7 separate regions of the Homo sapiens genome follow, and regions 2, 3, 4, 5, 6 and 7 are each linked to region 1. The links come from fine-mapping of genetic effects on gene expression. A gene starts in region 1. Each other region holds a variant in brackets. All regions are shown on one strand. Distances are from middle to middle.

The links. PIP is the estimated chance that this variant, and not a neighbour inherited with it, causes the effect.
Region 2: its variant is fine-mapped to the expression of POLR1D in whole blood (INTERVAL, PIP above 0.99).
Region 3: its variant is fine-mapped to the expression of POLR1D in whole blood (INTERVAL, PIP above 0.99).
Region 4: its variant is fine-mapped to the expression of POLR1D in whole blood (INTERVAL, PIP above 0.99).
Region 5: its variant is fine-mapped to the expression of POLR1D in whole blood (TOPMed, PIP 0.97).
Region 6: its variant is fine-mapped to the expression of POLR1D in whole blood (INTERVAL, PIP above 0.99).
Region 7: its variant is fine-mapped to the expression of POLR1D in monocytes after muramyl dipeptide (Kim-Hellmuth 2017, PIP 0.95). The same link has a PIP of 0.9 or more in monocytes.

The regions. Positions count from the first base shown.
Region 1 is chr13:27,619,625-27,623,693 of GRCh38, forward strand. It overlaps POLR1D (RNA polymerase I and III subunit D), which reads left to right and starts at 2,268. Exons shown (of 2, transcript NM_015972.4): 1 at 2,268-2,385; 2 at 3,251-3,825. The coding sequence starts at 2,360. The coding sequence ends at 3,626. It overlaps LNX2 (ligand of numb-protein X 2), which reads right to left and starts at 905. Exons shown (of 10, transcript NM_153371.4): 1 at 751-905. RefSeq lists silencers at 455-1,344, 1,965-2,524 and an enhancer at 933-1,661.
Region 2 is chr13:27,549,971-27,554,039 of GRCh38, forward strand. LNX2 (ligand of numb-protein X 2) reads right to left here. Exons shown (of 10, transcript NM_153371.4): 8 at 3,238-3,469; 9 at 363-521. Among named protein-coding and RNA genes, the nearest start is that of LNX2, 69 kb to the right of the region's middle. The variant G/A (reference allele first, on the strand shown) is at 2,119.
Region 3 is chr13:27,677,595-27,681,663 of GRCh38, forward strand. No RefSeq gene overlaps it. Among named protein-coding and RNA genes, the nearest start is that of POLR1D, 58 kb to the left of the region's middle. The variant G/A (reference allele first, on the strand shown) is at 2,556.
Region 4 is chr13:27,666,556-27,670,624 of GRCh38, forward strand. It overlaps a transcript of POLR1D not described here. Among named protein-coding and RNA genes, the nearest start is that of POLR1D, 47 kb to the left of the region's middle. The variant A/G (reference allele first, on the strand shown) is at 2,201.
Region 5 is chr13:27,660,829-27,664,897 of GRCh38, forward strand. It overlaps a transcript of POLR1D not described here. Among named protein-coding and RNA genes, the nearest start is that of POLR1D, 41 kb to the left of the region's middle. The variant T/C (reference allele first, on the strand shown) is at 1,976.
Region 6 is chr13:27,597,456-27,601,524 of GRCh38, forward strand. The region is part of intron 1 of LNX2 (ligand of numb-protein X 2); the gene reads right to left. Among named protein-coding and RNA genes, the nearest start is that of LNX2, 21 kb to the right of the region's middle. The variant C/A (reference allele first, on the strand shown) is at 2,070.
Region 7 is chr13:27,571,856-27,575,924 of GRCh38, forward strand. All of the region lies in intron 2 of LNX2 (ligand of numb-protein X 2), which reads right to left. Among named protein-coding and RNA genes, the nearest start is that of LNX2, 47 kb to the right of the region's middle. The variant GA/G (reference allele first, on the strand shown) is at 2,069.

The DNA.
Region 1 (4,069 bases):
AAGTGTACTTTAGCTCCTGGTACAAACGAACGTCTGGATTCATAAACTTAACGTAAACTGAAATACTAAAAGAAACACTACATGAGTCAAAAGTCCTTGTTTAAAACGTGGCATACAGCTTTGAAAAGCGAGTGATGTATTTCCTGAATGATGCTTTGTGTGCAACTGCTTCCAAATCAAGATTCATATTTTTAAATTACCCCCTGGAAGATGTCAAATCTCTCTCCCACCCTCTCCAGCCTAAAGAGAAAGGTGAGAATTCACAGGCAACAGGCTGGGGCGGAGGGAATGATCTCTCCCCATCCCTTTCCAGAGAACAAAACCCGATAAAGGCAGCTAGTGCCACTCTCATTGCCGACACCACACACACACAGAGGAAATTTAAACACTCACCCCACCTCTCCCTTCCCTTAAGAAGCAAACGACGCCAAGCTCTGCACCACGGTGGCCGGAACCAGCAAACGCTAACAGCCGGAGGCCGCCCGCCTCCCGGGCGCCTGCAGGCGGCGGGCACCGGGCGCCGACTCTCCCTCCTGGACCAGACCCACACCCGAGTCCACGCCAGCCCCGCAGCCCGGGCGAGCGAAGACAGCCGCGAAGGACCAAGGCTCCGGGGCGAGCTGTGGCGCCGCTCCGGCCGCCTCCCGGGGCGCGGCGCTGACCCACACCCAGCTGACGCCCGCACCTGAGGCGGCTGCCCGCAGCCAGCGAGAGGGCGCGCAGCGAGGCGGGCAGGGCAAAGTTACTCACTGGGAAAGCGCGGCTGCCCGGGCCGCGCACGGGCTCCTGGCGCCGCTGCTCGGCACCAGCTCCCGCTCTCCGCGGCCCGCTGAGGGAGCGGAGAGCCTGCCCGGCTCCGCTCCGCCAGGAATCGCCGCCGCCGCCGCCGCCGCCGCGGATTTCCTGGCAAAAAGCAAACTCCGGCCAAGACTTCACTTCTCAACCGCCCCTGCTGCCTTCCCGGGGGCAGCGCCAAGGCCGAGCGGCCCAACCCGCACCCGGGCCAATCGGAGGTAGCACAGGGCGGGAGGTGGGCGGACCAGAGGGCGGCTCCACCTATCCGAGAGCTCGGGAGGCGGGCCAGAAGGGACCCGTCACTCCCGGGTTAGAGTGAGACCACTCCGCCCTCGCCGCCCGCCTCCCCCACTCGCCCCGGGCTGTCCCCGCCGCCCGCCTGATTCCCCTGCGGAAGCCCCGCTGGCTAGGTGTCTGCGCGCACCCCCGGCCGCCGCCAAGAGTGGCACAGCTGGGGAAGGAGTGAACATCCAGAGGAATCGCGGGGCGGGGTGGGGGGAGGCCAGGAGAACAGGTGGCGCAGGGAAGCAGAAACGTAGTTGCGCTGGACAGCTGGAGTCGGGCAGGGTCGGGGCCAGCGGCGAGGGGACAAGAAGGGCCGATTCGAGAGGAAGCGCACCTGAGGGAGCACAGCGAAGGCCGGGACGCAGGGAGCTGGATGGAGAGCGAGCCTGGGCGGCGAAAGGTTGCCGAGGCGGGGGCTGGGCGCCTGGGAACAAAGGTGAGGGCGGGTTCCGCAGGTGAGGAGGTTTGAGGAGCCACTGGGGAGAAAGGGAAAAGGAAGTCTACAGCCGGAGAGGACGCGCTCTGGGGGTAGAAGGAATCCTAGGACGGAAAGGATAAGGTGGGAAACAGTTTTCTCCCAAACTCTCACTCCCCCAAAAGAGACATTTCTTTCTTGCCCTATTTTGACCCAGTTGAAAATGCAACTGCAAGCTCCCCGGTGAAACAAATACCGCCTTCAACCTTCGTATTCTGTGGTGACTCATCTCGCACGTGACCCCCCTCCCTCTTCAAGGTGTGTTGACCGACTACAGTTTAAGCCTGTCGTCCCACAAAAGGCCCGGGAGGGCCGGGGTCCCAGGAAGGGCCATCCTGGGTCAACACCGCCCCAGTTGGGAAGTCGGGCCGCTTTCGGACTTGCCACTGGGAAGGGAAGTGATTTGGGGGCGGCAGGTAAGGCCGCGCCCCTTCGCCATCACCTGGGGAAAGGTACCAGAGTTGAGCCGGGGCGCCCGCAGGCCTGTCTGGGCCTCGGGGTAAGGCGGCGCTGGCCCCGCCCCCTGCCCCTCCCGCCGCGAGTGGCCTCGCGTGGTCGCCCAGGTGAGCCGCGGGGCCGCGAGCCACCGCTCACCCCGCGTCGGGGCGGGGGCTGGGGGTGGAGCCTCATGCCCCGCCCCGCGGCTGGGCCCTGCCGCGCCGCTGCGGCTCCTCCTCCCTCCTTCCGTCCTCCGCGCCTTCCGTCGGTCGGTCCTTGCTTCCTGCTTCGCCTCCGCGCCTCGCGCTATGGGACAGAGCCCCCGATCCGCCAGCACCACCTGAGGATCCAGAAACCGCCCCAGCGATGGAAGAGGATCAGGAGCTGGAGAGGTAACGGCCGAGGAGGAGGCGGGCGGAGCGGGCCGCGCCCAAGGGGAGCGGGTGGCCGAGGGGCACGCTGCCTGGCCTGGCAGCCGGGGCCTGACTCGGGGCGCAGAGAAGAAGCATGGAGAGAGAAGTGGGGAGGAGACATGAATGTGTTTCAGTTGAGAGGCTGAGAGGTACACTAGCTATCAAGGAGGGAAGACAAGTTGGGAGACCAGAGTTAAGTATCCGAACTGCCCACCCCCGTTACAACAGCAGTGTGTAAAAATCACGCCCCGGGCCTCTGCTCCTGAGGACGGTACTCGTGCCTCTGTCCCTGTAACTACGGCTCACCTTCTTTCTATGTGCAGACTGCTCCTAAAGCCACTCTGTGCGCTGAGCTCTTTTTCTCCCTGCTGCTTGACTCCTGAACCTTCCATTCTCCTAGTTTCCTTCTCTTGCAAAATGGAAGCCGTAGTTGGGCCTGCACATTGATCATCTGTATCCTCTATTTTTATACTAGAGCAATCGGGATTTCTATGCCTTTCAACCCTCTCTTCATCCTCTAGCAGGACCAGTCCTATTCTAATCCTATCCCTTGCTTGTGACTCTACCAAAAAATATTTTTGCAAACACTTAAGTTTGTGTTTTTCTAAGAAAACTCCCCTTGTGGCCAGTGTGGATGGTCAAATGGAGCAGGGAAAAACTGGAGGCAATAAATTAAATATTTATTGATAGAGTTTGTGGAGGCAGGAAAATGAGAGGCGAATAATTCTGTGTAGCTGGAGTAGATTAATAATAATGTGTTGCAATGTGATATAGTAAATGAGAAAAAGCTAGTTACAAAACAATATTCAGTATGATCTCATTTTTATAAAAAATATGTGTGTAGAAAAATATCTGGATTGAAGACCTCAATGGCTGAAGGCGAGAGGAAGACAGCCCTGGAAATGGTCCAGGCAGCTGGAACAGATAGACACTGTGTGACATTTGTATTGCACGAGGAAGACCATACCCTAGGAAATTCTCTACGTTACATGATCATGAAGAACCCGGAAGTGGAATTTTGTGGTTACACTACGACCCATCCTTCAGAGAGCAAAATTAATTTACGCATTCAGACTCGAGGTACCCTTCCAGCTGTTGAGCCATTTCAGAGAGGCCTGAATGAGCTCATGAATGTCTGCCAACATGTGCTTGACAAGTTTGAGGCCAGCATAAAGGACTATAAGGATCAAAAAGCAAGCAGAAATGAATCCACATTCTAGTCCTTTATGCAGTATACAAGGAGAACTGTCCTGTAGGATATTCTCTTCCTGATGGTGCAGAACCCAGAATTAGAAGTTTGTGGTTACAGCATACTCTGTCCTTCAGAAAGGCGTGATTCTAGCTGTTGACCCCTTGCAGCTGTTGGAATCTCTGCAAGAACCTCTGTATTCTTCTAATAAATTCCCTCTTTTATTTAAACTAGTTTGACTGGTTTCTGTTCCATGCAACCAAATGGTCCTTGAGGATGACTTTTTTTCTAATTAAGCCAGCATTGAAAATGAGGAAACTGAGAATATCAGAGGCCTAGACAAGAACTGTGATCATGGGAATTAAAAGAAGTATATATCCATGTCTGTAGTTGGAGTGGTGGGGGTAAGGGAAGAGACAAAAACCATGACCCCAGTTAGATTGTTGTTTAAAAACAGAAGGAAAGAAGATTGGG
Region 2 (4,069 bases), 70 kb before region 1:
TCCAATGAAATAACTCAGGTTCAGTTTCTGTCATCAGATTAATGAAACATAGCTATAAGTGACAAGACAGTAAAGGTAACATTTCAGTCTAGATCGGGATTGGCAAATTTTTTCCGTAAGGGGTCAGATGGTAAATATTTTAGGCTTCAAGACCCATACAGTCTCTGTCATGATGACATCAACTCCGCTGGTGTAGTGTGGGAGCCAGAGAGTACATAAACCAGTAAGTGTAGCTGCACTGCAATGAAACTTTATTTTCAAAAAGATAATGGGCTGGATTTAGTGCTGACCCCTGACCCCTGGTCTAGATCATGTCCAATGTCATCAACATGAATCACATCATTAATTAGAACAAGACTCACTTTAATCTTCCATCATAATAAGCAGGAGTTCCCAAGACAATAGTTTTAATGAAAAAAGGCTGATTGGTGTGGTTCTCTTCATATCCACCAACGATACTAAAGCCCCAACTTCCCAAGTAACTTCTTCGTAAAACTATATCGTGGCAGCTATGAAGTGTGCTATAAACAAACAGAAAAATAAAGAAAAAATTAACATGGAGGCTTTTATAGCCGCTTATTTTTGTTATAACCCCATACCATGTTATATTTACCACTCTTGGAAAAAAGAAAAAGGGCTATTAATAAATAGATTATTTTGACAATCCATCTTCTAGCAGAGACACAGTCCTAGGTAGACTCAAATTTCTCCAACTTTTTTCAGTCTTCCCAAGTGAAGACACACACACACACATACACACACACACACAAGTAGAGAACCTGGTTACAAATTACACCTCAGTAACCTGTACAAAAAGGTCATGTACCTATATCAGCTCACTGCATTGTCAACAAAGTCCTCAATTCTACTAATCACTTTTATCTACAAGAGGAATTACAATGTGGGATGAAAGAGGTCTAGTACTGCCAAGCCCAGCATGCAAATGAAAGAAGAAAAAGATTAGGAACGCAGCTTCCGAAAAGAAGGCAGATAATTATCTCTCTTTTCTAAAGGTCCTATAGGCTTTTAGTCTACATGAGGAGTTATTTGTTATTTTCTCCTTTACTTAGGATGTTTTCATTTTAAGGGAGACTCTAATTGCCAAAATAGAGAAATCAATCTGAAAAACACTAACAAAAAATCTTTTTCTTTTTTTTTCTATCATAGACAAGCTGGGTACAGCGTCATGTGTCTGTAGTCCCAGTTACTGGGAGGCTGAGACAGGAGGATGGCTTGTGCCCAGGAGCTTGAGGCTGCAGTGAGCTATGATCATGCCAACTTGGGTGACAGAGCAAGACCCCATCTTTAAAAAAAAAGAAAATATATACACATCTATACACACACATGCATATATAAATGTATCATAGACACTGAGAAACTACAGTTAGAATGCTACTGCCAGATTGCAGGATGTGTCCAGAGAGGGAGAAAAAAAAAATGTACTTATGTTTCCATAGCTCTATGGATTTGGGAACAAGCAGTGAGTAAAATCTTAAAAACAAAACAAACAAAAAAAGCACACCTAAATGATAAGGAAAAAAAAACTCTTCATAATAAATAAATATCTTTCATCTTTAGGTGAAACTGGATCTAAATGCACGGAAGGCAAGGTTTCCTGTTTTAAATCCATAATAAAATAATAAATATACATAATATAAATAATTAATTTTAAAAATCCTGTTTTATTATTTCTTAATAAAGCCAATTCTATAAAGCAATGTTTACCATGCCAGAACTTCTCATCTTATCTAGTTTCCTAGCTCACTGATAAGAAAGGCTTCTGGGATGGAACAAGGTCCCATGCACTGGCCTGGATTTAAAGGGACAGTGTTGGTTATTTTCCTAATGCTGCATCTTCTGAAACAAACAGCTTTCTTGTATACCCCAGCAAATCGCAGTGGAAGAATCTCCCTTTTCACGAAAAGCAGAGCAGAGCTGCTACACTATGCCGTGTGAAACCTGCATATAGGGGCCACCTGCACCCACTGAGGAGGACACATGGCTGTTGAATATAGCTTTGCATTCAACAGAGACCTCCATACACACATTGAATAGTAGCCTTTTATCGACAGGTATTCTTTCAACACAGGTGGGCTCAAAAACAGATTTTACTATACT[G/A]TGTATTTCTCATCTAAAATCTTTGCTATTATGCCTGGCACACCAGAAAATGCTCTGAAAAAAAGAGGTCAATGTGCCAACCTCCAAACTAGACTGGTATATCAGATAAGGAAAATTAAAGGAAGCACTAGGGACCAAGTTTCTCCAGGACGCTGCTGCTCTCTGCCTGCCCCATCATTAGAGGTGCAGACAAGCTCTGAGGTCTGCAACGTGCTGCCCAGCCACTGCACGAGTAGACCACTTCTCACCCACTATGCGCAAAGCGCCTTGAAGCACTATATAAATGCTAGTTGTTGTTATAAATGTATCCCACGAGTCAGGTGGCTCAGAAAATAGCAAATTCTTATTGTTTTATTTTAAAGAATCAATAATTTTCATACTTGGTCAAAAGTCAAAATGCTTCATAGCTTAGTTTTAGGATTCTTAGGTACGGTAAGAATCTAAACGGATTAGACAACAAATGATGATAGGAACACATTCTTCCTATCTCAAATGTCAAACAACAACCGCGGAAAGGAATGTACCCTGGGATGCCACTGGAGGTTCCATGTGCTTCTGTGACCCCGACACTGACCAACCACAGCATATCTTGGCTGGTCACATTTATAAAAAATAAAAGTGAAGCAGCCATTCTTGAACACTAATGGTTTGGCTTAATAGACTCTTGTATCCAATAAAAATTGAGTTTTAAATGCCACCCTTTTTAGCGAGAGTTAAAATAAATTTAAAAAGGTGTTAAGAAAGGCTTCTGGGATGGGGGGAAGCCCCAAGATTGGCCTGGGTTTTCTGATGAAAAATGCATGAAGTCTCAGCACATAGCGGAATGAGTGCTGGTAAACGACAACTTTTCTAAGCAAGAGGCTGGGTTATCCAATCTCATGGCTAGCCCACTGAGGAGCCTTGACAGGAATGGACACAACTGCTTTCTTTGTGTACCTTTTAAAGTGTAATATCCTAAGAAAAATTATCCTTTTCTTTTGTAATTTGATTTGATGTTGCTATTTTACTGAATTAAAGCTTTTTTTTTTATCCCAACGAGTAAATTTATCATGCTACACACTGATAAGGGCTGCAAGCATGATTATGATTTCCATAAAGCAACAAGAAAGCGCTCAGTACCTGGGAAGCCCAAGCCACATGACCCATGATGGGGACCAACTGGCATCATACTCATTTTCGCTGAAAGTACTCGGCTGCTCCTCCGCGTTCTGAGTCGCCTCCTCAACAATCTGGACCTCAAGTGCTTTAAGGGCAACAGCAGGGGACGCGGCACTGGCTTTCAGCATTGCAACTGCCTCACTGTGACTTAAATTGGTCAAATCAATGCCGTTGATATTTAGCAACACATCACCTGTTCAGATGAAGAAACAAGAAAAATGAGCTGAGCCACTGAGTTTTCACCTGCAAATCTTGTTGTTTATAAACTAAGCAACAAAAGTTAGTTCCCCCAACTCTGATGAGATAAGGTATAATAATAAATGGCATTTATTATTTCTTTGTAATTTTTATAATATTGAGAAGAAACCCAATACACAGAAAACATTCCATAATTTTAAAATAATGTCATAATACATAGAAAAAAGTGTGGCCTGAGGCACCTTGACATGATTGGAAGTTCGAATCATCAGTCTGAGTTTAGCTGTGTACAGGCCCTGGGCAGGTTCATTTCTCTTCTTAAGAGTTTCAGAGATTTCTACAATTCTGTCCAATCAAAAATCACTTGATCCTTTGCCCTTAGAAATAAATCTTTAATGTATTCTGCTTTATATTTACACAGTTCTATACATAAGGACAGCCCTGTATAGTTTATTCAGGGCAAACATCAGAATATGTACAAAGAAGCTATCCCTGGGCCCACATGAAGAAATGAAACTTGCGGTTTGAATGTCTTCCCTGTTTCAGGAAGAAAAGAACTGTTGCTCTGCTAAGTAATATAATAAAAAATGGCAAT
Region 3 (4,069 bases), 58 kb after region 1:
AAAAATCATCTAACAATGCAGTTCTCAGGATATATCCACATCGTTAAGTGACACATGACTGTATTTGACAAAGTGCTCAACATCGTCAGTAATCAAGAAGTTGCAAATTAAAACCAAAATGGGATAGTACACACCCAACAGAAGAGCTAAAATTAAGGAGACTGACAACTCCAAATCTCATTGAGGAGCTAGAGCAACCAGAATTAACATATATTGCTGGTGGGAGAGTAAAATGGCATAATCACTTTAGTAGTTTTTTTTTTTTTGTCTGTTTGTTTGTTTTTTGAGACAGAATCTCACTCTGTCACCTAGGCTGGAGTTCAATGGTGCGATCTCGGCTCACTGCAACCTCCATCTCCTGGGTTCAAGCGATTCTCCTGCCTCAGCCTCCCAAGTAGCTGGGATTACAGGCATGTGCCACCACACCCAGCTAATTTTTGTATTTTTAGTAGAGACGGGATTTCACAATGTTGGCCAGGCTGGTCTTGAACTCCTTACCTCAAGTGATCCGCCCACCTCGGCCTCCCAAAGTGCTGGGATTATAGGCGTGAGCCATCTGGCCCAGCCTTAGTAGTTTCTTATAAAACTAAACATACACCTACCTCATGACCCAGCAATTCCATTCCTAGATATTTACCCAAGAGAAATGAAAGCATTTGGTCACGGTAAAACTTGTACAAAGTGTTCCTAACATTCATAACTGATAATTGCTTCAAAGTGGGAAAGCCCAGAATGTGGCATGTACATAAAATTGTAGACCTGATGAAGATGCCATTCAGATGCCCCTCGAGAAGGATGGGCTGACCAGCTGCAGGGAGTGCAGTCAGCAGGTGGCTTCCAGCTCCCAGCTCCTCAACATCAGTCTGAGCTGCAGAGAAAAACATACCCTTCTGGGCGTGGCCTGCATCTGGTGACTGAGCAAGGTGGAGAGATAAAAGCACGACTGTTTCGGCTCCACATGGGAAACTGGCAGGCAGGACTTCCTCCGAGTTCCCCACTGGTTTGGCAAGGCTCTATCTGGCCTGCAGGGCAGTTCAACCTCTTCATCTTTCTCAACTTCAATTGTGCTTCCACCTGCTTCCTTACACAGGTGTTGATCCCTAGTTAGCTTCTTGCACCCTAAACTCTGTCTCATCATCTGTGTCTAGACAATCCAGTTTGCTGCAGTTGTGTCTGGAAAGAGCAGGCAATCAAATGGGATTTTGGAGCTGAATCATTCACCGCCCAGCTAGCAATGTGGACACCTTGCACAGATGGTGTTTCCATTGTTAAAACTTCCACTGGTGGTGAATCAGGAGAGTGGACTTCTGGAAAGGGATGCACTGCAGAGGTGATGAGTCAGGTGCTTGAGAATTCTGGAAGAAATAGTAGATACAAGGATAAGGGGATTCTATGGCTATTGCCTGGTGCTAAAATGACTTGGGAAGCATGGAAAAAGCAATGGCCCCTGCTGAGTGAAACTGAAATGTCATTATCAAATAGCTGGTCTTTCATGAACTTTTACCTCTAGTCATAGCTGTATTAGGAAAGAACTCAAGTTCCAGGTATTTGGGGATAGAGCCCCTCTCTGCCCATAAAGTGCAGCAATAACCCTATTTCTACTTGTTAATTAGGAGCAATCACCTCAGCAAACACAGCACCTCCACTTTATGCCAGTTGATTCACTAGCATCAAAAGCCACAATGGCCGTGTGGTTGTCTCACTGGACCCATTGTTGAGTCCCCTCTAGAAGCCTGCCTTCTTTGTCAGGCCTCTAAAGAAGCAGGACCTAAACCCAGAATAGGAAGCAACATTTTACAAGTGAGTCCTTATGCGTCACAGTGGTAGGTACCACTCCTACTTTCACCCCTTGATTCTTGGACCCATTTTTTCTGCTTATGCACCATAAGAAGAGAAACTGCACCATATATTGGCTGTTGTATAGAACAAAACCCTAACTTCACTTGTAAATCTCCAAGTTGATATTATGAATGAGTCATCAAAAGGCCATTCTACCATTCTATAGGATGAGTGACTTCTAGCTGATGGTGTTTATTCTAAGAACAGTGAATCCTTTGAGCATATTGAGTCACCTTTTTGCTGTCAAATAAATTTCTGGCAGATGCAACATTGTAAGGAATAACATGATGGTGAATAAGACACAAAAAATATCCATGGATGGAGATGCTAGATGCATGGTGGACAGGAAAGGCAAATCTATATTCAGAATGTCTGCTTCAAAGAGGATAAATTACTGCCCTCTCCATGATGTAAGGAGTCAAGTGCAATCAATGAGCCACTAGGAGATTGGCTGGTCCCTTCAGAGCATGGTGCTAAATGGTAGTTAGCAAGTTGGATACTCTGCAGTGGTAGTGGTAGTCAGATCAGCACAGTGGCAATATCCACGGATGCCTAATCTCCAGCCCTGCCACCATGACCACATTGTACACAAACTCCTCAGATGTAGTTCACTGAGGTCTACACAGTGAGTCATGTTGTCCATTTCGTTAGTGAGATCCTCTTCTACCATGGGCTCCCTCTGGCAAACATTCATGTAAGATATCAATTTATCTCAC[G/A]CTGTGCATTCTAAGAGGTTTGGCCATATATCTCTTGCGCAAACTTCCTTGTCTCTAATTCTCTGATCTTGTTTCTAGCATGTCTCTGACCATCTGGCCAAATCATTGTCCAGCGACTATGAGTCAGTATAGATATGCACCTCTGACTTCTTCTTCCATTTAAGCTAGACAACCAATGTCCTGCTAGATGTTCTGCCCACTGGGAAGATTCCTTTCCCCAGTGTCCTTCAGGGCCACCCATGAGTGGGGCTGTAATGCTATAGCCATCCCTACAACCAGCAGAAGAAAGCTGTAAATGAGACCAGAGGGATGAAGGAGATGAGCAGGACATCAGGAAGTCTGAGCCACTTCTTCTGAATCCTACCTGTCAGGTGGTGCCTGATCTTCAGGATCCTGCCTTCAGGACCTGCTTTTGCCTGATCCCATATGAACACTTGGTTTGAAGGTAAAGTGCTGCTTCATATGCCCAAATGTATGATGTTTGGATGACATCATAATGGGCAGTTCATAATGAGCAGTTTGAGTCATATGTTCAGTTAATGCCCTATAATCAAGTGTTTAGTCCCCACTCAGACCCAATAGACATCTAGGAACTGTTTCTCAAGAGGAGATTAGCTATTTGCTCAGGAGTGTATAGCTTCTTTCAAACACTGTAACTGGAACTACAATTCTTCCATGAGTTTGCCCAGGGCTCAATAGAGTATCTTCTACTTCAGACATATTGAGTATCACTAGATTTGCTAGATCATAAAGCCTGAGGATGATAGTCACATTGTGCATGACCCAGCTAGGAAGCATTCTCTTGCTCTTGATGCCACTCAGACCTGCTAGCTTTACATATTTCTTGGTAAATGGATAGAGAATCACACTCAAATATGGCAGAGTAGGGCACTATGGAATTTGTTGTCCCAGTCCAAGCACATTAAAACAAAAGAATTACTTAAAATACGTCAAGACAACAGGCATAGACTTGAACTGTTCCAGGCAAATAAGTCACTCTAGACATATATTGCCTCCAAGATTCAAAGAAGCCCAGCAAGCATTTTGATTTTCTTTAAGTGGAAGAGGATGCAAACTGTTGTGTTACCCAGTCAATGAGCTATGTTCAAATTTTAATTATAGTCTTTCTATTCTCTCTGTGGTTCAAGGGTTTTTCCTGCAGGAAAACAAATGCAGTCTCAGTGTGAGAAAGGTAAAGGGATTACCCATTGGCATCTATGACTGAGTAAAGACTACCTTGAAGTCTTGAAAAACTGCATGAAGATACAGGAAAAATAACCTCAGGACTACCTGTATGAGCTGGAAAACCAGTCAGCTAATATAAACTGTATGATACCTAAGTCCTTCTCTTGCCTACAATTTAAGTTTGTTGTCGCTTTAAGTCTTGTTTTCCTTCTATTCACCTTGTCCACCTCCCAGAGGTTTCTCTTACACTGAGGATGAACAACTACAGCCCTTGGAAAGGTATAATTACAGATAATGAATATATACATATAATGAATGGATTTATATAT
Region 4 (4,069 bases), 47 kb after region 1:
TGTGCATTCTCAAACTCATTTATTAGATAGAACAATCTTTCTATATTTAATTTTTTTAATATATAGGTCTTAAGTGGTGCTTTAAAAAGAACCCTCACAAGTTAAAAATTAAGAGTTGTTTCAGTGCTAGATCTTACCAGCTAAAGACTTGTGATACCACTATATAGTATAGTTGTTCCAGAAATCTTCATTTTAAATAGAAGTGTTTACAATGCCTTTTTTCCCCCAGTATTGGTTTTCAATACCTGTTTTCATATACAATTACAAACCTTTCAAACCTGTATTCCTTCTTTATACTCAGGAAAATGTCACCAAGCACCCTCCTCCCCAGTTCACAAAAGGAAGAAGATGAAGATTCTGTCTCCCTGTTCCCCCTCCCCAGTTTTCCAAAGTGTCTGAGCATATGCCTGGCTGTCCTCAGATCATCACCATGCCACATCCCTGCTCCCTACTTCCTGGCAGCCAAGAAAAGCCCTTTCTACATGCTAGAAGGAAATACATCCAAAAAGTTAGCATTGGAGTGTTAGAAACTAGAATAGACCTCTCCGCCACCGAGCTGCTGTGTCACGCCCTCAGCCTGCTAGGGAGTGACAAGCCCAAGTCATTCTTGATCCACCCCTTCTCCCACCCCAGATCCCAGGGACTCATCCTGTGACTTTGTAACCACACTCATTCCTTTCAAACACAGAGGAGGAATTATTGCTTCATCTGACTTTATTCAAATCTAGTTATGTATTGGCCTAAATTATTTGTGCAAAATTTGAAATGTTTTTTATTTAAATATTAGAAATAGCACAAAGTCATGGAGTTTTTAAAAATTGTTATAATTAAGTAAAAATAAAGCTGAATTGTGTCATTTGTGTATGCATTCTGTATTTATTCATTATTTATTCATTTATTTTGTTTGAGAAGGAGTCTCGCTCTTTTCCCCCAGGCTGTAGTGTGATGGCACGTATCTCGGCCCACTGCAACCTCCGCCTCCTGGGTTCAAGCGATTCTCCTGCCTCAGCCTCCTGAGTAGCTGGGATTGCAGGTGTGCGCCAACATGTGCAGCTCATTTTTGTATTTTTAGTAGAGAGAGGGTTTCGCCACGTTGCCCAGGCTGGTTTCGAACTCCTGAGCTCCGGTGATCTGCCCGCCTCGGCCTGCCAAAGTGCTGGGATTACAGGCGTGGGCCACTGCACCCAGCCTTGCATTCTGTATTTATAACACACAGACAAGTTCATTATCCTTTAAAAGGGAATGACTGAAATGAACACATTTTTGTACTCAAAATTAAGGGAAGCTTTTTAGCCTAACTATACTTACCTTTCTTAAGTTGTGTTAAACGACAGTGGCCTACAAAACCATTTTCCCTTTTAAAAGCACTGTTCTATTTCAGAAAAGTTTATTGGAATCTTTAGGCTTCTATCAAGAGCAGCCATAATTTCCAGTCTAAAAATGTCAAGAGAAAATTATCTATTTTTTATTCCCTATGTATACAGTAGATGTTAGGGGAGGGATTGGTCATGAGATACATTCACCAGCCACCTCCTGTTTCTGTGGTTAACATACTGGCGCTGCCAAGAGCTCCCATCCGCCTGTGTTACTATCTGATCTCCATTGTAACTATATTTAGAGATCACAAAGCCTGGGATAGAGGTTAGAGAAACTGAATCTTAGTCCTGCCTCTGCTTCTGGCTAGCTTCAGGCCTTATCTGGGTCACTTTTCTGGACTGCATTTTTTCATCTGCAAACTAAGATGTTTGGAGTGAGTCTTTAACTTTCAATAGGTAAAGAAAGAAGTGCAAATAGCCCTAAATTTTAGGAACTGCGTTCCATGCTTCCACTAGAAACCATTAAGACTTAAACACAAATGCAACTTGACATAATTTTTTGTTTTATCTCATGTTAGAAAACAGCCTGTAAGAAATATAAGCAAAAAGCTATGGTTCCTAGCCATATCTGGTCACCTATTGGTGGCTAGTCTTTCTGAATCGCCCATTTATGAAGGGGGAGGGACTTAGGGTAGGTCCCTCTGAGTAGGCAGTTTATAAATTTTTATTTGGAAACACATGTTATAAATCTCAGTGGGTTTTACTTTAGGGCTCAGCAGGCTAAGCACTAAAGGACATTTCCTCAGAGCTGATTCTGGAAGATGGCTGTGGAGTTTTGAATTTCCCTGTGGACTTCTTTTTTGCTGAGAGGTTGGCAGGGGGGC[A/G]GGGGGCACATTGGCACATCTGCTTCAAAGCATAAAAAATGCTTTGGGGTAGCATTTATTCTTTCACTGATTATTCAAGTGACTTAGCATGGCACTTACATATTTATTTATTTTTTGAGATGGAGTCTCGCTCTGTTGCCCAGGCTGGAGTGCAAAGGCACGATCTCAGCTCACTGCAACCTCTGCCTCCCAGGATCAAGCAACTCTCCTACCTCAGCCTCCCGGGTAGCTGGGACTACAAGGCATGTGCCACCTGGCTAATTTTGTATTTTTAGTAGAGACGGGGTTTCACCATATTGGCCAGGCTGGTCTTGAACTCCTGACCTCAGGTGATCTGCCCACCTCGGCCTCCCAAAGTGCTGGGATTACAGGCGTGAGCCACAACACCCAGCCCATATTTTTACAATTAGTTACATATTCGTCATTCGTAGAGGTCATGCCATCACCTTAGAATCATAAAGAGTATCTGGTGGATAAGCAGTGCCTATTTAATAGACATTATATGAGGTGGGTTCCTGATGAAATGAAGCCTCATCACTTTCCTAAGGAGTGTTCTGTGTCCTGGGATCCAGTATAGAGGACTCCCCTCCCCAGAGGAGCTGAATCTAGGAAACCCATAAATATTCTCCCTATGAGGTGTTTGTAGGCTGTATTGGAACTGTGTGGACAGTAACAGTGATTGTCTATCACCTGTGGCCAAACACTGTTATATCTTTTACCTGTGTTCAGGTAGTTATCCCACAACCCTATGAAGAAGATGCTACTCACCTTCATTTTACAAATAAGGGAAACTGAGGATAGATTAAAAACTTTGCCCAAAATCACAGAACTAGGAAGTGGCAGAAATGCTAGCTGAAGCCAAGACTCTCTGAATCAAAAACCCATACTCTTTCCTGTACCCTATGCCAAACTTAATCCAAACTCGGCTCCCTCAAAACACAGGACGGGAGGGTCGTCTCAAGGTGTATATGCTCCATGTCTTCCCAATTTAAGAACCTAAAGAACTTTTATAATCACTGCATTTTGCAAGCCAAAATCTACTCCCATAGATCAGAACATGGAAGCCCCAGCAAAGAACATTTGTATGGGGAACTGTTTCCCAAGGGCCAGTGTAGACAGCGATCTGAATCCAAGAGAAAAACTCTCACAACTCTTGTGAAATGGTTAAATGGCAGCTAATGGAATATAGCTATGGAAAACTAAAACCTCAGGTGAAGCCAGTATTCTAGATCTTCCATGTTTGAATTTTTTTTTCTCCATCCATAAGAATAGTGAGATTTGGGAGTAAAGAAATCCTTGGGACGCGGCCTCTTTGATACCATAGAAAACATTCTATAATCCAAGGAATTTGAGAAACTATCTCTTGGAAAGCCATGTCAGCAGATCATAAATTGAGCCTCACCCATGGCTCTTCTGAGTCTAGATACTGAGAAGGTTAGTTTGCCAAGTGGAAACTCTTGTTCTCAACATGGAAAAGATGCCCAGGAAGCATGCCCTTTTACACACAGGAACACATAAAGAGGAAAGTAAATTAATCCCCATTAAACTGGCAAGGCAACACTGAAGGCAGAATTCAAAGGCAACTTATACATTTTTATTTGGTAACCCATGTTATAAATCTCAATGAACATTACCATGAAAAGGCCAATAATAAACATGGATTTTGGAGCATCATTAATAGTAAGATGAAAGATGAACTATTTCTCCCATCCATATAGTCCTGTAATATTCACCTTTGGTTTCGATAACTTATAAATACTCTCTATGTGAAACAAATACCAGATATAACACATCATATGAAACACCTGAGGGAGACATTTCTCCTCCACATAAATGTATAGCCTGCCCTAAGTGGTGGTCCCTTGTCCT
Region 5 (4,069 bases), 41 kb after region 1:
AGGCGCTGTACCTTTTTTCTTTTCTTTCCTTTCGGATGACGGCTGTGGAGATGAAATGAGGCAACATTGGTAATGGAATAGCACAAGGTAATTGTGTCTTCAACGTACCCTGTTGGCTGGCGATCCTGTGTCACTCTCAGATAGGTCCTATTCAGGAAATATTTTAGAAGCAAAAGGTAGCAGGTCTAAATCTGTGGAAAGTTAGATACTACTACCTCTATCCTTCAGCAAGAGAGACAAAAAAGATGAAAAGCTTATAATTCTAGCCCCAGTGAGTCTTCATCTCTCCAGTGGCAGATTCTTGAGCAGTCAGCCTTTCCCATGGCATGTGGAACCCTTCCATCACAGCCTCTGAGCCCACAGGTTTCAAAGTGAAGGAAATTGCTTTCCTTTTAAAGTTTAACCTGGATAGAATGCCAGATCTCAAATCTGACATTGTGTCATGGGTACTTTCCAAAGCAGATTTAACCAGTCTCATGATATTTAGGGTTTATATCCATTTATGTTGTTAGCACCTTAAATCTGGCTCTTACCATGTGAGCTAGCATAACTTTCTAGAAACAAAAATAAACTAAATATAAAAATAACTAGCCAGGGTGAGAAAGTCGCCCCCCAGGTCAGAGCTAAGACAGGAAATCAGCTGCCCTGTCCTGTGGCCTCCTCCAGTCCTTCCCCCAGCACACCTTTTGGGCATAGACAGTGACAGACAGTGCAGACACAGCAGGCAGCCGTGGCCTATGATCTTATGCTCAATTTCAGGGCTCAGATGGTTACCCTAAAGCTGATACGAGAAAAGCCAGGAATGGTGGAGTGTCTAATGCCAGTTTATCATGTCATCTCAAATACTGTGGAAGATCGGGGGAGGCGGGAAATGGCAGTAAGAAATAATTTCCTAATGTGATGAATGAGAAGAGTGAACTTTTCTAAAGAGTTAATGTACAGAGCATGAGCAGAGGATCCTAAAACTGGAAGGGACTCTAGAGATCACCCACCTACTTCAACCGTTAGTTTTACGTCTGAGGACAGAGGCCTAGAGGGTTTGTGGAACAGTTGGAAATACAAATGATAAGCTCAAAGGTAGTATGTAGTAGCCTCTTGATCCCGGTGGCAATGGAGAATTGAGATAGCCGGGAATCTGAAACTTCTACAAATACAAATCTAACCATGTTAAAAGTACCAAAACTTTTAAATTTTAACCCTTTTTTTGGAAACTTATGTAAAATGTCTCATTAACTTTTAATGATGGCTTACTTTTTTCTTAATCTTTTCTTTCATAGAGATTCTACTCTGTTCTTGATTAACTTATTATCACAGGTGATTTGAGGCTTTGGGATATCTTGAGTTGCCATCTTGCAAAAATTCCGGATGTATTAGCCTATTTGAGAGCTATGTGTACTCTTTCTCATGAAGAGAGAGTAAAATAATATATGTCCACCATCCTTTTTCTAAAACCTTTGTATCCAAATAAGTCTCTAATTTTAGATATTTTTACATTTTAGAAAGGTATTACAGCACAGATAGCATGTACTAGACACCCCCCCCACCACTACTCTGTACTTGTTCAACATGGTATCATTTCTTCAGCAAAACATGAATGTTTATATTAAATGGGATAAAGACTATATAAATAGCCCAAAGTCAGGTCAGATCAAGTTTTGCTGCCAAACAAACTTTGGTGTCATAAAAATAACTTGGTTTTAATAGGTTTTTAAATTTTGGAATTAGGGATAAGAAATTGTGGACCTGTAGGTAACATTTGTTGCAGTTTGCTGTATGCCAGATACCATGCTAAATGCCTTATACATTATCTCATTAAATCCTCACAATAACTTTATAAGGTAGATACGTCTGTTATTCCCATTTTGCAAGTGGGGGAAACGAATGCAAAGAGGAGTTAAGTAACTTGCTTGTGATCACACAGCTAATTAAATAGTAGGCTGTGAACCAAAACTGAAATTAACCAAATGCCTTTATG[T/C]GTCAGGCATTGTTCTGAGTACTTTACATGTTCTAATTCATTTGATCTGCATGCAACCCTTTAAGATAGTCGCCATTATTATCCCCACTTAACAGCTAAGAGGCAGCAGGGAGATTACATAACATGCCCAAAGTCCAGTCTGTTAGTGTGATTCCAGAGCATGTGTGCCCAGCCACTGTCTCATGTAGTGTGATTTCTTAGCAATGAAACAACCAACTGTGAGATTCAGCAAAATTAATTTCTACCTTAAAGGCCAGAGAAGCTCTCCCCACTGATTCCCTCAGACATTGGTTTTGATGTTGCCGTCCTTAGACTTGGATCTATTCTGTGCAGATTTTGGAATTTCTTTATATAAAATGATTTACTATATGTACCTTCACATCTGCTTGCAACTACTGTATCTCATTGCCCTGCCCTATTTATTAGTAGAGTGTGAATGAGCACTTGTCATCACTTCTAAAATGTGTACTGGCATGCCTGGGAGATGTCTGACTTTCAAACCCCACCTCCACCCCACCCCAGTAAACCAAGATCTCCTCAGGCCACCCTTGGCTATTTACCTAGAATAGAATCCCAGGCATAACCAACATTAAAAAACTGCATCTCTGATGTTAAAAGAGATGTAAATGCCAGTTTTCTTGTGGAATTATTCTATAAAACCATCTCATTCTCTGGCTAACTCTTTGGGTCACTATGTTGAGTCAGTGGGTTACACTAGCAGTTGGAAGATAGGTGCAGTCCCCTCTGCCTCTTGGCGTGAATGCTGCAGTTAGTAGCAGGGCTTTGCTCACCTCGAGGAAGCATTTGGTTTTAAAGATGATCTGACATTGAAAACAGCAAAATAGAGTGGAATTCACCAGTAGTTACCAAAGGTTTTGTTCTGAGATCCTGGATTACCATCACGTCTGGGAAAAGTACCCTTCCTTGTTGTTTAATGCAGAGAAGAACTGGCCAGTTTACCACCACTGAGATGGCCCACTTCAGTGAAAAGACCCCAGAATTCTTCTGTTGCTGGACATGTTTCACCAGCTACTCCTAGCCCTATATATCCAAGAGACATATGTAGTTCATTTGTCTATAAAAAAGATTTTGCTCTTGTAGTAAGCACCAGGCCACCATTGCCAAAGACAGGCCCTCTAAGCTTTTTACTCTCTGTGATGGAGGGTAGTTTTTCCTGTAGGCTGTCTGTGTTATGCTGTTTTGGAACATGCCAGTGTTTAATACTGTTCTGAATCATTGCTGAGTTTGCAACTGCAGTGGGTCAAGTGTCTTCACCAAAGCAACGCCTGCATTCAGTAGTACCCTGTCAGACCCTGCAGGAGAACTCGGCTTGCCTCTCATCACGTGCCTGTCTTCCCGCACAGGAATGTCCTAATGCCAGCGTGCCCCCAGGAGGTAGAAATGTCTTTACCTTGAGACTACTAAGGCAGCGTAATGCTGGTGTACCTTTTCTGGAAGCTCTGTGAAGCTCTATAGTTCGTACTTGCAGAACTGTTTTTTCTTTGTTTTTGCCTTTCTTCTTTGCCCTTCGTCTCATTCACTGTGGCTTCTAAACTCCAGAGCTGTCACCACCTCTGAATGTTCCCACTATTTCTGTTGCACTCCACTGTCCTTTTCTTAAATTTTCTAATTTTCCACTGTCCTTTTCTAAGTTTCTCCTTGTTCTAGTTCATTCCTTTGTCACTTTTCTGGCCTGACCATTTTTCTCAGATATTTTCTCTGTCCTTGTAGGCTCAAGAGCTACCTATTTGCAGCAGGAGGTATTTTCTTGTTTTTCTTCCTTTTACTTCCAGATTCAGTGCCATTTTGGTTTTCTGAGATGGTCTGACCTCTGTGAGTGAGGCTATGCTAATGCCTGACTGCTTATACTTCACCTGTACAGTACTAGTCCACACAATTCCTATGTGGAGTGTTGTTGGCTTGATTTTGAAGTATTGTTTGGGGTTCTCTGTAAATCAAAGTTTTATAGAAATGTGGCTATTCTACATTCGTTTTTGTTTAATACCAGCCACCCTGAATAACATGATTTTGAGAATCAGCATACTCCTAAAGTAGCCCATCATATGGCAGACACCTCAAGGCTAAGAGAAATAT
Region 6 (4,069 bases), 22 kb before region 1:
GATATTTCAGAAATAGTTGATGCACTCTATGTGGGTATATGCATGTAACGGGGGTGGATGGACAGAAAAGAGAGTCTGAGGGCTGGACTAGGTACAGAGAGAAAGCAAGGGTTCCTGAGTCAAATGATGTGACTAGACCCATGTGTCTGGGTAGGTAACTCTGGCAGCAGAGTTATGGCAATAATGAAGGGGGGTAAAACAAAAAGTTACTGCAATGGCCAAGATGACTGGTAATGAGAGCTTGAATTAAGGGAATGACTATGAACAGTCAAAGGAGGAATGGATTTGAGCAACATTTTAGGATACAAAAGTTTTAAAAGAGAGAAAGAAGAAAAGCGGGTAAGAAAAGGTGTTAGCATACCATAACCAGCATAGACATATCAAAGAAAAGAGAATTATAAGGGAACTTTCTTCATATTTCCCATCAAAATATCCCTATATTCCTTACAATTCAAAAGTAGTTTCTCATAAATATAAGAATTTCCTGGTATCTCCAAAAAGCCAAAATTTGATAATCCATTTACTATTTTACTCTATAAACTGTACTGTTGAGAAATAAAATGTCTTTCAATTTACAACAAATGTCCATTATCAGCAGGAGTTGCAGCCTCAGGCCCTAGCCTTCTGCTTTGAAAAACTGGGGCACTGTGCTAAACAATCTACAAAGCTTCTTCCAGCTCACTGCAGCACATCACTTAGCACATCCTTACCACACCACTTAGGAGTGGGTAAGGGTCTCAGCACTGTTTAAAAAAAAAAAAAAAAGACATGATCAACACCTATGGCCCACATCTGGCTGAAACATCAAAGTCCAATTACCTAAAGAAAAACAGTACAGCTAGAAAAAGGTTGAGATGTAGGCCACTAAAATTAGAAGTGAAAAAACAAGAACACAGGACAAGGACAGAATATTAGGATTTTTGTTATTAAACAAAAGGGGATGAGACCGATGTCACAAAATCATACACAGTCTAAATTGAACAGGGATTAACCCATGGGGTCAATTTTGACATGTAAAAGGAATAGATTGGGAGAGGGAATGATAATAGCTAACATTTATTTAGAACTTACTTTATATCAGGCATAGTGTCAACTGGGATGGAGAATTAACAGATTTAATCCTCAAGATAACCCTGAGATGGATACTATTCTCACATTCCTCCCCATTTTTCAAATGAGGAAACTGAGAGTAAGGCCCAAGACCTAAAGCTAGTGAGGGATGGAAACATGATTCAAATCAGGCAGTCTGATTCCAGAGCTATAATTTTAAAGTATATACTGTACCTAGTACTTACAGTATAGTAAATATAAGCAGGCTGCACAAACCAAAATATATACATACCTACACATATACAGTATATATATACACAAACATGTACATATACACATATATGTTTACATAAACAAGTAAATGACAGATCCAAGGGGAAGTTACCCTCTATTGTTAATTTTCCAGAAGAAAACATGTATTGCCATCTATATGGGGGCCAAAATGCTGGATGGACCTCATTTCTCAGTCTCACAAAAAATTTTCCACAATTCTGTATTTTCACTTTTAATTTTTACTGTAATAAAATGGAGGCTTCAAAATTGACACTACTTTTTGTATCCACAGAATTCAATAATTATATGCTTCTGTGTTCAGATATCAAAATCAATTTGAATGAACACAAAACTGAATAGCATCTCAAATTTTGAGCTGCCTATCAATCTCTCACAAAGCTTCTTGGAAAACATTCATTTATATTTGTCATGGGGCACAAAATTTGTACAGTGCTTTGAATGCAACCTTTGTATATAAAAGGGTCTATACAGAAAAGTTTTAACCAAGCTTGAAGCTTTTCTCCTAGGGCTTTAACATACAGATACCAAAAGGAGCCTTTGTTTACTCATTGGAACAACATTGTCTTCTAAGGCCACTCACCACTACTTTGTAAATTAGTGCCTCAAGATCTGGAATCCCACTTGGTTTTTCCTGCCAATGGCTCTAGGTGTTTGAACAATTTGGGATATAACTTCCTCTATCCTTATCTACTAGCATCCTCATTGCAATCTGAACTTACGATTCC[C/A]GTAAAAGAAATTCATTTACGTTACAGACAATATACTTATGTTCTAACCAGGTAAAGGTCAATTAGTAATCCATATTTACAAAGCTATAATTAGGAAGTAAGTTAGGAATAGACAATATAAAGTAAAACAATAACAAAGGTATCTTGTAGGAATAGAATAGCACCTGTACTTTGGCAACTCTTACTTTCCTGCAGATTATGTTAATGGAAGGGAAGAATTTCAAAGGCACCCCAAAGAGGCAAATATTTAGCAACTTTCTCTCAAATCAAACTTTTACACTTTGGATCTCAAACTCAAGAAACACACATCTAAATATTTAAACTTGTGGGTCTTGGTTAACAATGGCAGCAAATATCACCCAAAGAGCATTACGCCAATCCTGAAAATCTTTTGGTTGCTGTTTCCATGGAAACAGCCTAGATGAAGAAAACCTAAGAGTAAAGAATAATACATTTTTTAAAACCACTTTATCTTGTTTTCCCCTATCAGTTAGCCAGCATGGCACATAACTAACAGGCACATCAGTTATGTACCAGAAAATTCATGACTCATTCAACAAATATGTGTTGGTTATCTGCTGCATGCCAGGCACTGCACCAGAGGATAGGGTTACTCTGGAGAGCTCACAGAGCTCAGTCTAGCACAAAGACATTTACTAGCCAATGACACAAAATGATCGAGAAATTTCACATTCTTTTGTCATATTATGTTTTTGAAATTTTACATGTCAAAAACAGTGTACATTTTATACTTACATCACATTTCAGTTGGGACTAGCCACATTTCAAACCCAATGCCAACAAAAGGCTAGTGTCTTGTACTGGACAACATGGGTACAGATATTCCAATGGGGACGAAAAGCATGCATATCAGGAGTAAGTCGTTTCCTCAAAGAACATAAAATCTAACCAGTAGATTAGCCACTATACATGCAAAATATATATGGTACAGAAACATAACCGTAGAATTACTCAGTAGGTAAAGAAATCTGTAAGAAACATTAATATATAAGATACTGGGTGAGCAACTGTGTGTAGAATTCTTTCAGCTGCAAATGATGGAAAACCTGACTGAAAGTGGCTTAAGTGAAAAATAAGATAGGTGTTACTGACTCGGGGCTTTCTCCCAACTCTGCTTCCTCTAGATTGGGTTCATTCTCAGGCTTCATGTGGCAGCTAGTTCCCAGCAGTTTTAGGGGCACAGTGTCAGACCCCTTGTTCTGCTTCCACAATATTGCCAACAAATGCCCCAGAATTACATCTTCCTATTTCTAATGGCTGGCTTGGTCATGTACCTATGCTGAACCAATCACAGTAGCCAGGGACATGTGATGCTTTAATGGGCCAGACCTGGGTCACTTCTGTAACAAGGCATCAAGTCAACTTCCCCAGAATCACAAAGACTAAAGTGGCTTAACACTGATAAGCCTGATGTATGGCCTATCTTCCTTTAACCATATTACTTGACTGCTTCACTTGATACTCAAACAACCCGGAAGAGTCTTATAAAGTCCATTTCCAGTGATTTATTCCTTCATAGCTCAATTTATTCACTATTACTACAGGCTGGACATTATACTGATTGCTTTACAAGCAGTATTTCATTTAATCTTTCCAACAAACCCTATGAAGTAGTTACCATCACCATTACCATTTTATAGATGAGGAAAACGGGGATCCAAGGGATTAAAAACAACTAGGCTATCAGTGATTGGAATGGGATTCAAACTCTGGTCCATCTAATTCCAAAGTCCACGTTCAGCAGTACCTGAAATTAAGATATTTTTACTGTTCCCTCCCTCTTCCCCATCATTAAAGAAAAAATAAGAAAGACATTATATAAGCAATACGTGATGCAATTCCACAGAAACCACATGATTTATAACACCCTATCTGCAGACATTGCTGAGAAAACTGATGACAGCCCCAAAGAAAGACAACTGCATTAATAAACTAGAATGATACTTCTCTAAATTCTAACTCCTCAAATAAGGCTATGA
Region 7 (4,069 bases), 48 kb before region 1:
GTGCCTAATTTGTGCCAATTACTTACGTAACAACCTTTATATACATTATTTCATTAAATCCTCACAATTACTCTGTTATCCCCATTTAAAAATGGGAAACTTGAGACTTAACCAACTAAGCCAACATCACACAGATATTAAATTGCAGAGCCATAATCCAAACAAACTCAGATCTAATTTCAAAGGCTTCTAGCTTCTGTTCTTTCCAGTGTATCATACTAAATTCATTCCTATGGTATTCTTTTTCTAGGCCTTGGGAAAATATAAATTGAATTTCTTCTAAAAATTTGTACCTAGAAACACAATCACAGAACGTTGGGGCTAGAAGGGTATTAGCGATCATTAAAAAACAGAAATCACAAAAATAAAAACCTATCCATCTTTGGAAATGGAACATTTAAGAACACAAACTGAAATTGCACTGGGGGAGGTGACTTGGTTTATTCAGGCAGGTGACTCAGTGTAGCAGGAGACTAGTACAGAGGATATCAAAATTAAACAAAAACAATAGAACAGAACAGCATGTGACATCTAATTAGATTGAGGTAGGCACATGCTGAGACCATACAGTGGAGCTCTGAGATGGTGGGCTGCTGAGGCAGTGCAATCTGCCATGGGCTGAGGGCTGCACCTCCTGAGGGAGGGATCTGTACATGTAGGTGTGTTTTTTAATTTTCTTAAATAAAACCAAAATGCTCTTGCAGCAGCCAAGACCCAAATAGGGATTTTTCCTTTCCTGCTGAAGGTTGTTCTTCTATTCCCACTATTCTGGCTCTCCTCCTAAGGGAAAAATTATATATGGACTAATTTGATTTATGCTACAGTGACATCATTCCCTGATAACAACTGCATATGAGCTAGTTCACACTAGGAAACACATGGTGCAACAACACACTATATTATTGTCAGTAATATTAGTATTAATAGTGGGGGTGGTGGTAGTGCAGTAGAAACAAAATAAAACAATGCATACTAACCACTGCACAATGCCAGGTATTTAATGACACTGAAAGAATGTGAACACCTTAGAATCAAGAAAAATGATAAAAATAGCTAGGGAATAAACAAAAATTAATTCAAGTCATGTCAGTGAAAATGGTGAATTAAGAATATCTGAAAAGTCTCTCCTCCATAAAAGCAGTAAGAACACTGGAAGAAATTGTCAGAACCAGCCATTTCTGAAGTGTGGAAATTAGCCAAAGAATTATAGCAGTAGGGAGAACATTTGTTCAAGAAAAATGGCTGACTCTCAGTAAGAAGAGAGAGCTCTGTGGCATTTGAGTTTACCCTATTTCCATCCTCACCTCCCCAGAATATTGGAAAAGCAACAGCCCACATCACAGTGGAAATCAGGAGGCTGGCAGACACTGGAAGAGCAGACTGGAGAACCTTCAAAGCCCTATTCCCAGAGATCTGTTATTAACTGACCTGTCTATGGTTCCCCTCTTGTGTGCTTGTCTTTTTTCTTCTTTTTTTTCCCCCTATACTTGTTTCCTGTATGACTGTGTGCCTGTCTTTACTTGGCTTGACTCAGAGCTCACCCAGGGCAAACTTCCTTTTCACTGGGGGCATTTGTTAAGCATTGGTTAAAAAAAAAAAAAAAATCAGAGGTCATTGCTGAAGATTGTGGCTGCCTGAAGACAAATACAAGGCTAACCAGAATGTTTACAAGGAAGAGCCAGGGAATGACACGTCCACAGAGGTTCAGCTATGTTCAGGGCTGTGTGTGTAGGCTAAGGTGGAGCTGTCAGTGGCGTGAGTGTTGAGGGTGTGGCATGCCCCACCATGCACACAGAACCCCCATGGAAGACGGGGAGATTTTTTTAATCTCAGGCATTTAAAGAATTCTCTGTCCAATCATTAGCTGTCCAGTACACAAAATGAGCAGAGACTTTACAGAATTAGTTCATAAGAGTCACATAGCAAACAAACAAACAACAACAATAACAAGTCCTCAGGAAGGAGAAGAATCTAGTTTTCTGAGTTGCCACATTATATTATTTAAAATGTCCACTGTTCAATACAAAATTAAGAAACATGCAAAGAAACAAGTACAGCCCATTCACAG[GA/G]AAAAAAAAAAAAAAAGCAGCCAACAGAAACTGTCCCTAAGGAAGCCCAGGCATTAGCTTTATCAGACAATAACTTACATCAGCTATTTTAGATATGTTCAAAGAAGTAAAGGAAACCTATCTAAAGAACTAAAGAAAAATATGAGAATGATGTCTTATCAAAAAGAAAATATCAATAAAGAAACATTAAGTCATAATAAAGAACCAAACAGAAATTCTGGGGTTAAAAAGTTTAATGAAAAAGAATGCATGGCCGGGTGCTTTAATCCCAGCACTTTGGGACGCCAAGGCGGGTGGATCACTTGGGGTCAGGAGTTCAAGACCAGCCTGAACAATATGGTGAAACCCCGTCTCTACTAAAAATACAAAATTAGCCAGGTTTGGTGGCGCATGCCTGTAATCTCAGCTACTTGGGAGGCAGAAGTGGCAGTGAGCTGAAATTGCGCCATTGCACTCCAGCCTGGGGAACAAGAGCAAAACTCTGTCTCCAAAAAAACAAAACAGAAAAAGAATTCACTAGTTCAACAGCAGAATTGAATCAGAAGAAAGAACTGGCAAACTTGCAGATAGGTTTATTGAGATCATCCAGTCTGAGGAACAGGGAAGAAAAAAAAAAAAAGAACACAGCCTCATGGTCTTGTGGGACACCATTAAGAGAATAAACATATACATAATGAGAGTTCCAAAAGGAGAGAGAGTGAAAGGAGTAGAAAGAATATTTGAAGAAATAATGGCCAAAAATCTTCCCAAATTTGATGAAAAACATTTATCTACACATCCAAGAAGCTTAATAAACTCCAAGTAGGAAAACCACAAGATATACACACTTAAGACACCTCATAATAAAACTGGTGAAAGCCAAAGATAAGGAATCTTGAAAACAGTAAGAGAGGAACAGCTCATCACAAGGAAAGGATCCTCAATAGTATCTGCTGATTTCTCTTCAGAAACCATGGAGACTAGAAGGCAGTGGGATGACATACTCAAAGTTCTGAGGGAAGGAGAGACAGAGAAGGGGAGAAAACTCTCAACCAGGAAGTCTATATCCAGCCGACTTCAAAAATAAAAGAGAAATTGAGACATTCCTAGGTAAAAACAAAATGTTTGTTGGTAGCATGCTTAACCTGCAAGAAACACTAAAAGAAGTCCATCAGGCTGATGTGAAAGGACACTAAACAGTAACTCAAGTTCATGTGAAAAATGAAGAGCATCAGTACAGTACTGAATTATTTGGTTTGTAATTCTTTTACTCCTATCTGATTTAAAAGAAAAACATATAAAGCAATAATTCTGTGTTGATGGGCACATAATGTGTGAAGATACAACTTGTATAATAATAATAGCACACAGGAGGGGAGAGAGAATGAAAGTTTTTGTATACTACTTGTGATGGTTAATTTTATGTGTCAACTGAGTGGGCCATGGGGTATCCAGATTAAACATTGTTTCTGAGTGTGTCTGTGAGGCTGTTTCTAGCATGTGAATCAGTGGACTCCATAAAGTATAAAGTAGATTGCCCTCCCCAATGTGGTTGCATCATTCAATCCTTTGAGTGCCTGAAGAAAACAGAAGGTGGAGGAAGAAGAAATTCATTCCTTATTTTCCTGCCTTACTGCTTGAGTTGTGACATCTCATCTCCTGCCCTCAGACTGGGATCACTGGCTCTCCTAGTTCTCAGACCTTCTGACTGAGAAGGTCTGAATTATGCTACTGACTTCCCTGGGTTGCCAGCGTGCAGAGAGCAGAACGTGTAATTTTTCAGACTCCTTAATCATGTCAGCCAACTCCTCATATATTGGTTCTATTTCCTTACAGATCCCTGACTAATTCATTAGTGAAAATGAAGCTGGTATTCATTTAAAATAGACTGCTATAAACTAGGATGTTAATTGTAAGCCCCAGGGTAACCACTAAGAAAATAATTTTAATTAAGAGAAATGACACGGGAATTAAAATAGCATATTAAAAATATTTAACACAAATGGAAGAAATGGAGGAAA